Linked DNA regions of Homo sapiens: region 2 is linked to region 1. A link means that fine-mapping ties the variant in region 1 to the expression of a gene that starts in the linked region. Tissue or cell type: thyroid. Region 1 holds a variant in brackets; the other region holds the start of a gene. All regions are shown on one strand. Distances are from middle to middle.

Evidence for each region.
Region 2: it holds the start of CCND2-AS1, and the variant in region 1 is fine-mapped to the expression of CCND2-AS1 in thyroid (GTEx, PIP above 0.99). The same link has a PIP of 0.9 or more in transverse colon.

Annotation. Positions count from the first base shown.
Region 1 is chr12:4,249,134-4,254,501 of GRCh38, forward strand. CCND2-AS1 (CCND2 antisense RNA 1) reads right to left here. Exons shown (of 2, transcript NR_125790.1): 2 at 1-60. Among named protein-coding and RNA genes, the nearest start is that of CCND2, 22 kb to the right of the region's middle. The variant G/A (reference allele first, on the strand shown) is at 2,290.
Region 2 is chr12:4,272,939-4,278,306 of GRCh38, forward strand. CCND2-AS1 (CCND2 antisense RNA 1) reads right to left here and starts at 3,246. Exons shown (of 2, transcript NR_125790.1): 1 at 3,121-3,246. CCND2 (cyclin D2) reads left to right here and starts at 824. Exons shown (of 5, transcript NM_001759.4): 1 at 824-1,297; 2 at 3,067-3,282. The coding sequence starts at 1,103. RefSeq lists silencers at 15-134, 665-754.

The sequences.
Region 1 (5,368 bases):
GAGAGGCAGACAGCACAGGTAGAGATCAGGAGGAGTCTGTTGGTTTTATGGTAGATTCTTCTGGAAGTGGGGGACAAAAGAAAGAGGGCCGTTAATGAAAGCTTCTGATTGGCTGCCTCAGTTACAGGGCTTTCCTGCATCCTTCATTCCCAAATGGGCTTCTCACATTTCTCCTTGTTACCTTAAGGACTCGGAACATGGCCGGGCATGGTGGATCACACCTGTAATCCCAGCACTTTGGGAGGCTGAGGCAGGCAGATCACTTGGGGTCAGGAGTTCCAGACCAGCCTGGCCAACATGGTGAAACCCCGTCTCTACAAAAATACAAAAATTAGGCAGGCGTCGTGGTGCACGCCTGTAATCCCAGCTACTCGGGAAGCTGAGGCAGGAGAATTGCTTGAACCACGGAGGCAGAGGTTACTGTGAGCCGAGATCATGCTGCTGCACTCCAGCCTGGGCAACAGAGTGAGACTCTGTCTCAAAAAAAAAAAAAAAAAGACTTGGAACAAAGTTTTCTAATACATGGCCTGCAAATCTCTCTCTCATTTCTTCCAAAAAGCACCTGATTTTGTCTACCAAGGATTCAACACTATTTTGTCCTGTTAAGGGCACCCTGTCTCACTGATCATTAAAAAACCAACCTAGAAATGTCTTTGAACAGTCAGTAAAAGCCCACATCTTTTGAACAACTACTGTATACAGACACTGGCCGGGAGCTACGGGAGATATAAGGGAGTAAAAAAGACTCTGACTTCTTTTGGTTGAGACACAAACCAGGGACAAATCACAGATTTTGATGGCTGGGGTTCCAATATTGTGTTTGAGTCCCAGCTCATCCTGTAGCCACTGAGCACTTAGGCCCCCATTTCCTTCTCTGTAATATGGTGATAAAAACAACATCAACTCATGGGGTTCTTGGGAGAATTAAATGGATAACCCCATAAAGCAGTTACAGCGGTAGGTGGCACATGGTAAGTGTTCAATAAATGTTGTCTGATCATCTGAGAAATGTACTCATGCAAGAAGCCGCTAACACCAGGAGATGCCACACCAGCGAGGTCACATGATACCTAATAGCCAAGGCCAAACGAATAGTAGAGAGGGTATATTTGCTGCAGGAGAATAGGGTATGAGTGTTCTTGGGGGCACCAGGACCAACTGGGCCAGCTTCCAGAGTGTCTGAGACTTCTGTCACCCAAATGACTGGTTTGAGCCACAGCCCACCCAGGGATGAATGTGGAGCAGCCTGGACCTCAGCACACTTGGGGTTTCTGTCCCCCAAAAAGAACTTGGAGTCTTACGGGTGTGGGGGATGGCTGGTCAGGAAGGGATTCGCAGAGTGGAGTCACTGGCGCCAGGGACTCAAAGATGGACAGGATTCCCAAAGGTCAGGGGCAGAGATAATAAAGAGGCCAGCCTAAGGGCAGCCCGTCTACTCTTTCTAGAGGCCCCCTTGATGGTCACCTCTTCCAGGGTTGAACATTATGCACTGTTGGGAACGGATTCCTCTCTCTCCCTGAAATTCCCCAGCTGCTGCTCAAACAGAAACCTACTTTTGCTTGCCTGGCTCTTGGTGGAGCTGTTACCTACATCCCCTCTCCTAAAGAGCAGCCCTTCTCAGAGCTGAGGGCTGAGGTCCCATCAGCCCTTCCCTCGGGCTTTCTCCTCTCCCGAGGACCATGTTCTGCTGGCCTCCTGGAAGCCATGACTCGCCTTTGTGCACGGCCCAGCACAGAGAAGCCAACCCTCGAGGGGACTTTGAGGTCTCCCCTGGCAGGGACCCAGGCTTGTGGCTGCTGTGTAGTTGCTGTCTCCACCGCCTCCACCTTCCAGAGCTGTAGGGGACACAGCTGCCACTGGCACCCCTTCCCAGTTCAGCTCAGAGACTTTATTCTCAGGACCCTGGCATTCCACTCTGGGCCATCGCGGGGGATTTCAAGTGAAAAACAAAACAGAACAAAAACTGAGGAATGTCTTCCTCGGTGAAACAGAAGCCCAGCTCTGTCACTTACTAGCTGGGTGACCTGGGGAAAATTACATGACTTTTCTGTGCTTTGGTTTCCCAATGTATTAAACAAGGATAATAGTAATTTCTATTGCGCCTGTTTGGAGGAGTGAGTGAGTTGATATAAAGGATGCGTTTAAAACAGTGCCTTTTACAGCATTAGGGAACTATTGGCATGTTGTTCTTTTATAGTGGTTAAGGGTGCAGGGTACTGAATCAGGCAGACGGTGGAGACATCAATTCACCTCTCTGAGCTTCAGTTTCTTCATTTTCTTAAAATGAGG[G/A]TAATGACAGTACCTACCCGTTAGACTGTGGGAGGACCAAATGAGGTGATGCACGCTGGTGGTTTTATGTGAATGATTTAGCGCAGTCCTTGGCATGTAGTGAACCAGAAAAAGGCTTACACCTTTAAAAGAAAGAAAGAAAGAAAGAAAAATCTTGAAAGAACAAAGGAAGGAAGGGAGAGAGAGAGAGACCAAGAGAGGGAGGAGAGGAGGGAGGGAGAAAGAAAGAAGGAGAGAAAGGGAGGGAGGGAGGAAGAAAGAGAGAAAGAGAGAGACAGAGAAAGAGAGAAAATAAAAGATAGAAGGAAAGAGAGAAAGGAAGGGAGGGAGGGAGGGAGGGAGGGAGGAAAGAAGGAAGGAAGAAAGGAAGGAAGGAATGAAGGAAGGAAGGAGAAAGGGAAGGAAGACAGGGAGGGAGGAAGAAAACCCTGGCTGAAAAAATAATGACCAAACTCATTAGAGATCTAAGACAGGCAACCCAGCCTCCAAAATGCAGCTGGCTACAACAGCGCCTCCAGTCTGCAGCCTCCTCCAGAGTGGTCTCCACGCTGGGTTATCCTCATGCCCTCTTACTGTTCCTGGTCTGGGGTCTTGCACATCATAGCCACTGAAGTAAACAAGTGTCAGATGAACAGCATGTTTAAACATGTCTACTCAGCCCCCAGGAAAACAGGGGAGGAAAAAGAATCCTTTTAGAATGTTACTCTACTTGTTCAACACACAGGGTTCTACCATCCAAGAGGTGGCTGTGTGAGGGTGGCAGAGATGGCATGAACCAGCCACCGGGCTGTTGAGGGTAGTAGTGAGTGCCCAGGCTTTGGCTTTTGAGAGACTGTGGTTCATGTCTTGATTCTGCCCATTTCTGGCTGCAGGATTTGGGCAAGTTTCTTAATCTTTCTAAGCCTCAGTTTCCCTCATCATAAAATGGAAATTGTAAAACTTACCTCATTAAGGAGTTGTGAGAATTAAACGAATTATTTGTAAGATACAGACAGTGCCTGGTAGAGGTAAGTGCTTCATATATTTGGGCTGTTGTTGTCAACCCTGGATTTCCCAAAAACCTGAAGACAGCAGGGCATTCTGTACATTAAGTTTTAGGGAAAATCTTGTACCTTCTTAGTTTTTCTGGTTGTGGGGCAGGAGAAAAGGGGTGTGGTCATGACCTGAGCCCCTGGAGTGCTTCTGCCCAGCATCAATGACATGTGCCCACCCTGCTTTGGGGTCATTTTGCTCCTTTGGCTGCAACTGTCATTCCCCTCACCATCAACACCCCCTCCTTCTGCAGAGACGGTGAACACGCTGGCATTGTTCCTTCCAGCCAATGGCTTCTCTCTGGCCTGTGATTGGTACCCCCCAGATTCCAGTGCAATCCAGGCATCCCAGCTATGTCAGCGTGACTCAAATTGTGTGTGCCTGACATCCACATGGCCCCGTAGAAGGCTGGCTCCAGCAAGAGGGCATTTGGAACGCTGCTGAATGCTTGATGGCTGCCAAGTTATCTTTTTGGGGTTAGGCCATTAAAGTTGCATCTGATGTTTTATGGAACAAACCAAGATAAACTGCATGTTGAAATCCATGAGACATGAAGAAGATTTTTACAGATGAAGACACAACGGCAGCTAAAGTTAGGTGGGTTTTTTCCCCCTCAAAACTTTGTAGTTTTTCTTCCACACGGCTATTTCAAAGCAGAAGCAATCCTCAAAAGTGAAGCATAGACGCTGCCATAGTAACAGGTTCAGCGAGACCTGGAGCTGCTGGGGCACCTGGAAAGAACATGGATCTGTCTCTCCGCTCTCATCATCCCAACCAGAGTCGTCTGCTCCATTCCTAAATTCTCTACTCAACTTTCCTCACGTACCCTGACGAAACGTCCTTTTCTGTGCAAACCTAAATTTGTCCTGGTGCTTTTTAATGCATCTCCCAGCCCTCTCTATTCTCATGCTACTTGCAAGCGACCAAGGAGCCAGTCACTCCACCCAATTCCTGGCCCTCTGGGCACACTGTGCACCTTCCGACTTTTGTTCCTGGGCTTTGTCACCTTTGTCCAGAGCACCCTTCCTTTCCACTTCTGCCCACTGTTCATCCAAGCAAATGGTCCAAGAAGAGTCCACTCAAATAACAGGCATACTGCCAGGCAACGATACGATAAGAAAGATTAGCAGACCAAGTATCAGAGCCTTTTAACCCTTGAACCCAGGACTCAAGCACACCTCCTCCAGGCAGCCTTCTCAGTCATCCCCTCGACTGAACCCCTCAGTCTCCCTCTTTTTGCACTCCCTTAACCTTCAATTGACCCCCGTCTCCCTAAGTAAAAGCTGTGTGTGTGTCTGCTTCCCTCCAGACTGTAAGGCTGTTGAAGATGGAGACCTCAAGATGCTCATTCTCTTTCTTGGACCACTTAATTGATAGAATCAGGACTTCAAGCTCTTTCTCCTTCCACTGGCACTTGAATGCATAAAGAAGCAAGTGCGACGATGCTGATGGCACATTATGTATACAAGCAAACAACTGGTGAAGGAGGGCCCCCAAATGCCATTAATTATGGGAAGTCGTAAAATTCTGGCATATCCTTGCTATTGAAAAGCATTCTGCACTTAAAATGAATGAAGTAGATGTATATGTACTGGCATAGCAAGACTCCAAGAGATGATTATTCACTGAAAAAAATCAAGTCACAGAACAATATGTTTGGCATGATCCTATTTAGGTTTTTAAACTGTTAAGTTCCAAAAAGAAAACCATCAGGATCTCTCTGATGTGACTGAGGAAACGATGAGTTATCTGAAAATGTTGGGAAAGTGAGAAATCATAAAAAATGAATCATACATACCATACACATTTTATTTAAAGTTAATGTACATTTATTTACCAATCTCTTGGTAGCAGTCCAAAGCTTTTTGAGTCTGGGTCTGTTGATTAGAGCTGTATACCATTTTACTGAGTATGTAAGCCATACTCAGAATGCATTGTCTAAGACTTCTAATTTCATTTTCTTTAAAGTGGGATGACAAAAAGTTATGGATACAGTAATTTGAGCACAGGATCCTAAATTATGCTATGTAGAGGCTGTGTGATCTAC
Region 2 (5,368 bases), 24 kb after region 1:
CGCTGGCCGCGGGGGAACCGCTGGGAGCCCTGCCCCCGGCCTGCGGCGGCCCTAGACGCTGCACCGCGTCGCCCCACGGCGCCCGAAGAGCCCCCAGAAACACGATGGTTTCTGCTCGAGGATCACATTCTATCCCTCCAGAGAAGCACCCCCCTTCCTTCCTAATACCCACCTCTCCCTCCCTCTTCTTCCTCTGCACACACTCTGCAGGGGGGGGCAGAAGGGACGTTGTTCTGGTCCCTTTAATCGGGGCTTTCGAAACAGCTTCGAAGTTATCAGGAACACAGACTTCAGGGACATGACCTTTATCTCTGGGTATGCGAGGTTGCTATTTTCTAAAATCACCCCCTCCCTTATTTTTCACTTAAGGGACCTATTTCTAAATTGTCTGAGGTCACCCCATCTTCAGATAATCTACCCTACATTCCTGGATCTTAAATACAAGGGCAGGAGGATTAGGATCCGTTTTGAAGAAGCCAAAGTTGGAGGGTCGTATTTTGGCGTGCTACACCTACAGAATGAGTGAAATTAGAGGGCAGAAATAGGAGTCGGTAGTTTTTTGTGGGTTGCCCTGTCCGGGGCCCCTGGCATGCAGGGCTGGATGGAGGGAGAGGGGTGGGGGGTGGCGGGGGACCGCGTTTGAAGTTGGGTCGGGCCAGCTGCTGTTCTCCTTAATAACGAGAGGGGAAAAGGAGGGAGGGAGGGAGAGATTGAAAGGAGGAGGGGAGGACCGGGAGGGGAGGAAAGGGGAGGAGGAACCAGAGCGGGGAGCGCGGGGAGAGGGAGGAGAGCTAACTGCCCAGCCAGCTTGCGTCACCGCTTCAGAGCGGAGAAGAGCGAGCAGGGGAGAGCGAGACCAGTTTTAAGGGGAGGACCGGTGCGAGTGAGGCAGCCCCGAGGCTCTGCTCGCCCACCACCCAATCCTCGCCTCCCTTCTGCTCCACCTTCTCTCTCTGCCCTCACCTCTCCCCCGAAAACCCCCTATTTAGCCAAAGGAAGGAGGTCAGGGGAACGCTCTCCCCTCCCCTTCCAAAAAACAAAAACAGAAAAACCTTTTTCCAGGCCGGGGAAAGCAGGAGGGAGAGGGGCCGCCGGGCTGGCCATGGAGCTGCTGTGCCACGAGGTGGACCCGGTCCGCAGGGCCGTGCGGGACCGCAACCTGCTCCGAGACGACCGCGTCCTGCAGAACCTGCTCACCATCGAGGAGCGCTACCTTCCGCAGTGCTCCTACTTCAAGTGCGTGCAGAAGGACATCCAACCCTACATGCGCAGAATGGTGGCCACCTGGATGCTGGAGGTAGGTCGGGGGGTGGCGCTCGCCAGGAGCCAGGACCCCTCCGGATGCTCGGGTCCCCGGCCGGAGCCCTAAACCTGGGAGAGGGCAATCCCCGCGCCGGCCTCCCGGCTCCTGTGCGGGAGTTTACCGCGCGCCTTCTGGCGAGACGCGTGGCTTTATTTCTGTTCCTCTCCAGATAAACTGGGGAGGCAGAGGGGGGAGGAAAATCTGGGAGAAGCGAGGCTGTCCTGGGCGGGGGTAGGGGAGCATCCCGCGCGCGTGTTCCTGCATGTGGCTGCCTCTTCTTCCCACCCCCCTCGCGACCTGTCTTTTGCGAAGCCGCCGCGGCTGCTTGCGCTGCGGCCAGGAAGAGAGTCGGGGCCTGAAATCGGGACCCCGAGTAGAAAGGCAACCCCCCCCAAAAGGCCAGAGCAAATTCGTCTTGGCCTCAGGTCCCCGCCTGTGGTCGCGACTCCGCGCTGGCACTTCACCGGGGAGGTGGAGGGAGGAGGGAGAAGGAGAGAAACGGGGAATTCGGGAGCCCCGGAAGTCCCATTGAAGAAACGCGTGTTTCAGGGGAACCCAAAAGAACCGCTTCTTGCCCCTCACTCCAAGTCTTTGCCCAGCGAGCCGTGTGCCCACGTATGCACAGCTCTGGACCTGCCGTGGTTTCGCCATGTTGCTTTGCAAACTCCCTTTGGAAAGGCTGGGAAACGTCGCCCGCTTACCCTCGCACCCCATTATCCCGGCCACCCCACTTCTAATCGTGCCCTCTCCCCCACCCCCCACCTCACGAAGATTACTTACAGTTTGGTTTTCCAGCTTCCTCGGTGCGGAGATTTGGGTGGGGTAGGAAGGGGGGGAGGGGGTGTGTGTAGGGGGGATACCGGGTCACCCCTGAAGGAGAGGTGGGAGCCCCCCGTGCCTCTTTCCAGGGCTCTCTGCTCCCGTCTTTCCCCTCGCTCGTCACCGCGTTCCCTAGTTTCTGTCCTTGTGGGCCGCAGCCGGACACTCCCGCCGCGGCGCTCACCCCTTCAAGTTTCCTCCCGGGATCCAAAGCCCCAGGGGTCGGAATACAGACCTTTCTGGCACCCGAAACCTCTGTTTCGGGAAGCCTGGCTCTTCTTTGGGGTTTTCACGCCAAAAGGGCTTTTCTAGGATATTTCCTCGATTTTTAATTATTTTTTGAAACCATCCCCCCCTGCTCCGACTCCAGCTGCCGAGGCTGCGGCGCTCTTCCTCCTCTCCTCCCTCCCCCTCTCTTCCCCACCTCTCCTCACCCGCCCCCCCAAAAGCGGCCCCTGGGCCGCAGGGACCCCCCCAGACATTTTTTCCAATTGTCGGGAATGATAGAGGAGGATCTGGGGATCCGGATGAGACCAAGAAGTGGACCCCCGGAGCCTCCAGAATATTTTTATTGATTTTTTGAAAAGATGACGAAATCCAAAAAAGAGTGAGTGAGTTAGAGTGCGCGAAGGAGTAGCCAAAGGGAGCGTCGCGGAGCTGCCGCGGCTGCTGCGCACTTCTCCGACTCCCCGTTTTGGAGCTGTAGTTCACCCCCTTTTATAGGATCCCTGGGAATACCAAAGCACTGATGGGCTATTCTGATTCACTCCAGTTTCCTCATCTTTGTTCTTTATTCTTATCACGCATTCTGGTCCCCTCCCCCTCCCACAAAAAAAAATTAATTTTTTTTGTTTCGATAGATTACGCTTTTTTATTCTTTTTCTCTTTTGCTGATGCTATGCTCTCCACCCCCGCCCCCCAACCCTTTCCCACTCCCATTATAGGTCTGTGAGGAACAGAAGTGCGAAGAAGAGGTCTTCCCTCTGGCCATGAATTACCTGGACCGTTTCTTGGCTGGGGTCCCGACTCCGAAGTCCCATCTGCAACTCCTGGGTGCTGTCTGCATGTTCCTGGCCTCCAAACTCAAAGAGACCAGCCCGCTGACCGCGGAGAAGCTGTGCATTTACACCGACAACTCCATCAAGCCTCAGGAGCTGCTGGTAATGACCGGCCCCTTCCTCCCTTCCTTTCTGCGATTCCCGCTTTCCCCTGGCCAACAATATGCCTTCTATCACCACTGCCAGAGCAAATTCTTGGGATCCAGAATGACCCCACCAATAGAATTTACCCACTTATGGGCGATAGCTCATTTAATAGGAAACCACTGTTTATTTTTTGTGTGTTCCTACTATGTGCCCAGGCTCCGTGCCCAGCACTGAGGCTACATCTGTGAATAAGATCCTCATGGAGATTTGGGTTGGTGAGACTCATTTGCAATTGTGTATGCATGTGTGTAGGGGACGCATGGAATATTTTAATTAACAGTGATAATATTTTAATTAAATTCCAAATTTCCAAAAATAGTCTGAGAACGTGTTCACATGATAGGTATGTGGCTGTGGTGTCTCCTAAAAACTTGGAGTTCAAAGGTAATGCCCTCTATATCTACAAAGTCTCAAGATACCAACACATAATAGCTGTTCACTAAATATCAGTTCATTGACTTTTGAGCAAAGTCAAAATGTGGCCTTTCACTGAAGGAGTCCGAGGCCTGGGTTCCTACCTCCAGTGGGACTGTGACCTCTGTACAACCCCAGGGATCCTGTCTTATCTCTGCTTTTCTACCAGGGAACCTTTTTCCCACCTGATCTAACTCCTTTTCCCTGCAGCTTGACATATAAGACGACCATATTGCAGCTGTACCGCATGGAATAGCGGCTCCAAGGCCCACCTTCGGTGGTTTGCACACCCCTCTTTGCACTGTTCAGAAAAGCACCCCCTCCTTCCCGCCCCTCCCCCTCCTCACTGGTAGGGCCCGCACAAAGTCCACAGGGCTGAGGCTGGCTTCTTGAACTGAGCTCTTTGTGAGGAGCCTTCCTTTCTGGGGCTCTGCTGCCATCTAGTGGAAGACATGCACAAGGTTGGGGGAGGAATTGCCGAGAATGTGGAGAGGGGCCTGAATGACTTCACCTTTGAACCGCTGCCAGGTTTTAGCTGCTTCTGGTTTGGTCCGAGAGGCCTAGAAAGGTGCTTTCTTCTGGGAGATCTGCTTCCTTTAATAACGGTGCAAGACCAGTGGTTCGTACTCGCATTACCCTGTGAAGAGGAAGGGCTGGCATTTCAAGCCATCTTTGAAGATGATGGTGGTTTAGTAGTTTATTGGGGTGCTTTACCCCGGCTGTACACAGAAAGCCAAGGCAGATTTTAAAGCTTATGAAGAAAACATTGTTAGAATTGGGAACCAATTTGTTTTTCTCATGAGAGAGCAGGAAAAATCATCTTCATATGGTTCATTTGTTTCGAGAGGATGGTGAATTGAGATGTTCTTCAGGACACCCAAATCTTTCCAGGACTAGCCAAGCAATATATTGCTACAAACAAACTTGGCTTTTTCCTATTCCCTTTATCCCAGAAGTTGGGATTTGGAAGAGTCCTATTTTACAAATGAGAAGGCTGAGGCCTGGGAGGGAAAGGGAATCACCCCCAGCCCCACAGCTGTGGGACTGGTGCTCTGGTTGCTGGTTTAGCAAATGAAAGAGATTCCAGGTTCTCCAGGTGAATGGGAGAGAGGGTGCATTGGCAAACAGGCCCTGCCTCTCATTCTTCTGATGACAGCTCAGTGGATAGGCATATTTTCTGGTAGCACATACGATATTTTTAATGTTTTATTTTGGACCGTTTCCCTTTGAGCACAGTTTCCCGTAAGTATCTCAGTGAAAGAGGGAAACAAGGTTCTTTTTCAGGTGGGTTGCTGGTGAGAGACCCAAGAGACAGGGTTGTGTGGTCCCCACACTTGCACTGAGGGATGCTGTGACACTGAGCAGGCACCCTCACCTTGCCCCAGATCACCTCCATCTGCAAAATGAGGTTGCTAATGACCATGTGGTCCTTTAGTCATGATGACAATGGCCTGTGAAACATTTAGGGGAAAGGGCTGAGTGTCACATCCCCAGAATTTCTGCCTGATATGTAAAAGGGGAGTTTGAGCAGCAGAGAGATAAAGGCACTTTTTGGCACTAAGTAAAAGCAAGCTAATTGGTTGCCAAGGAGTTGGGCCAAGGAACCTTATTTTGAGCTTTATCTGTG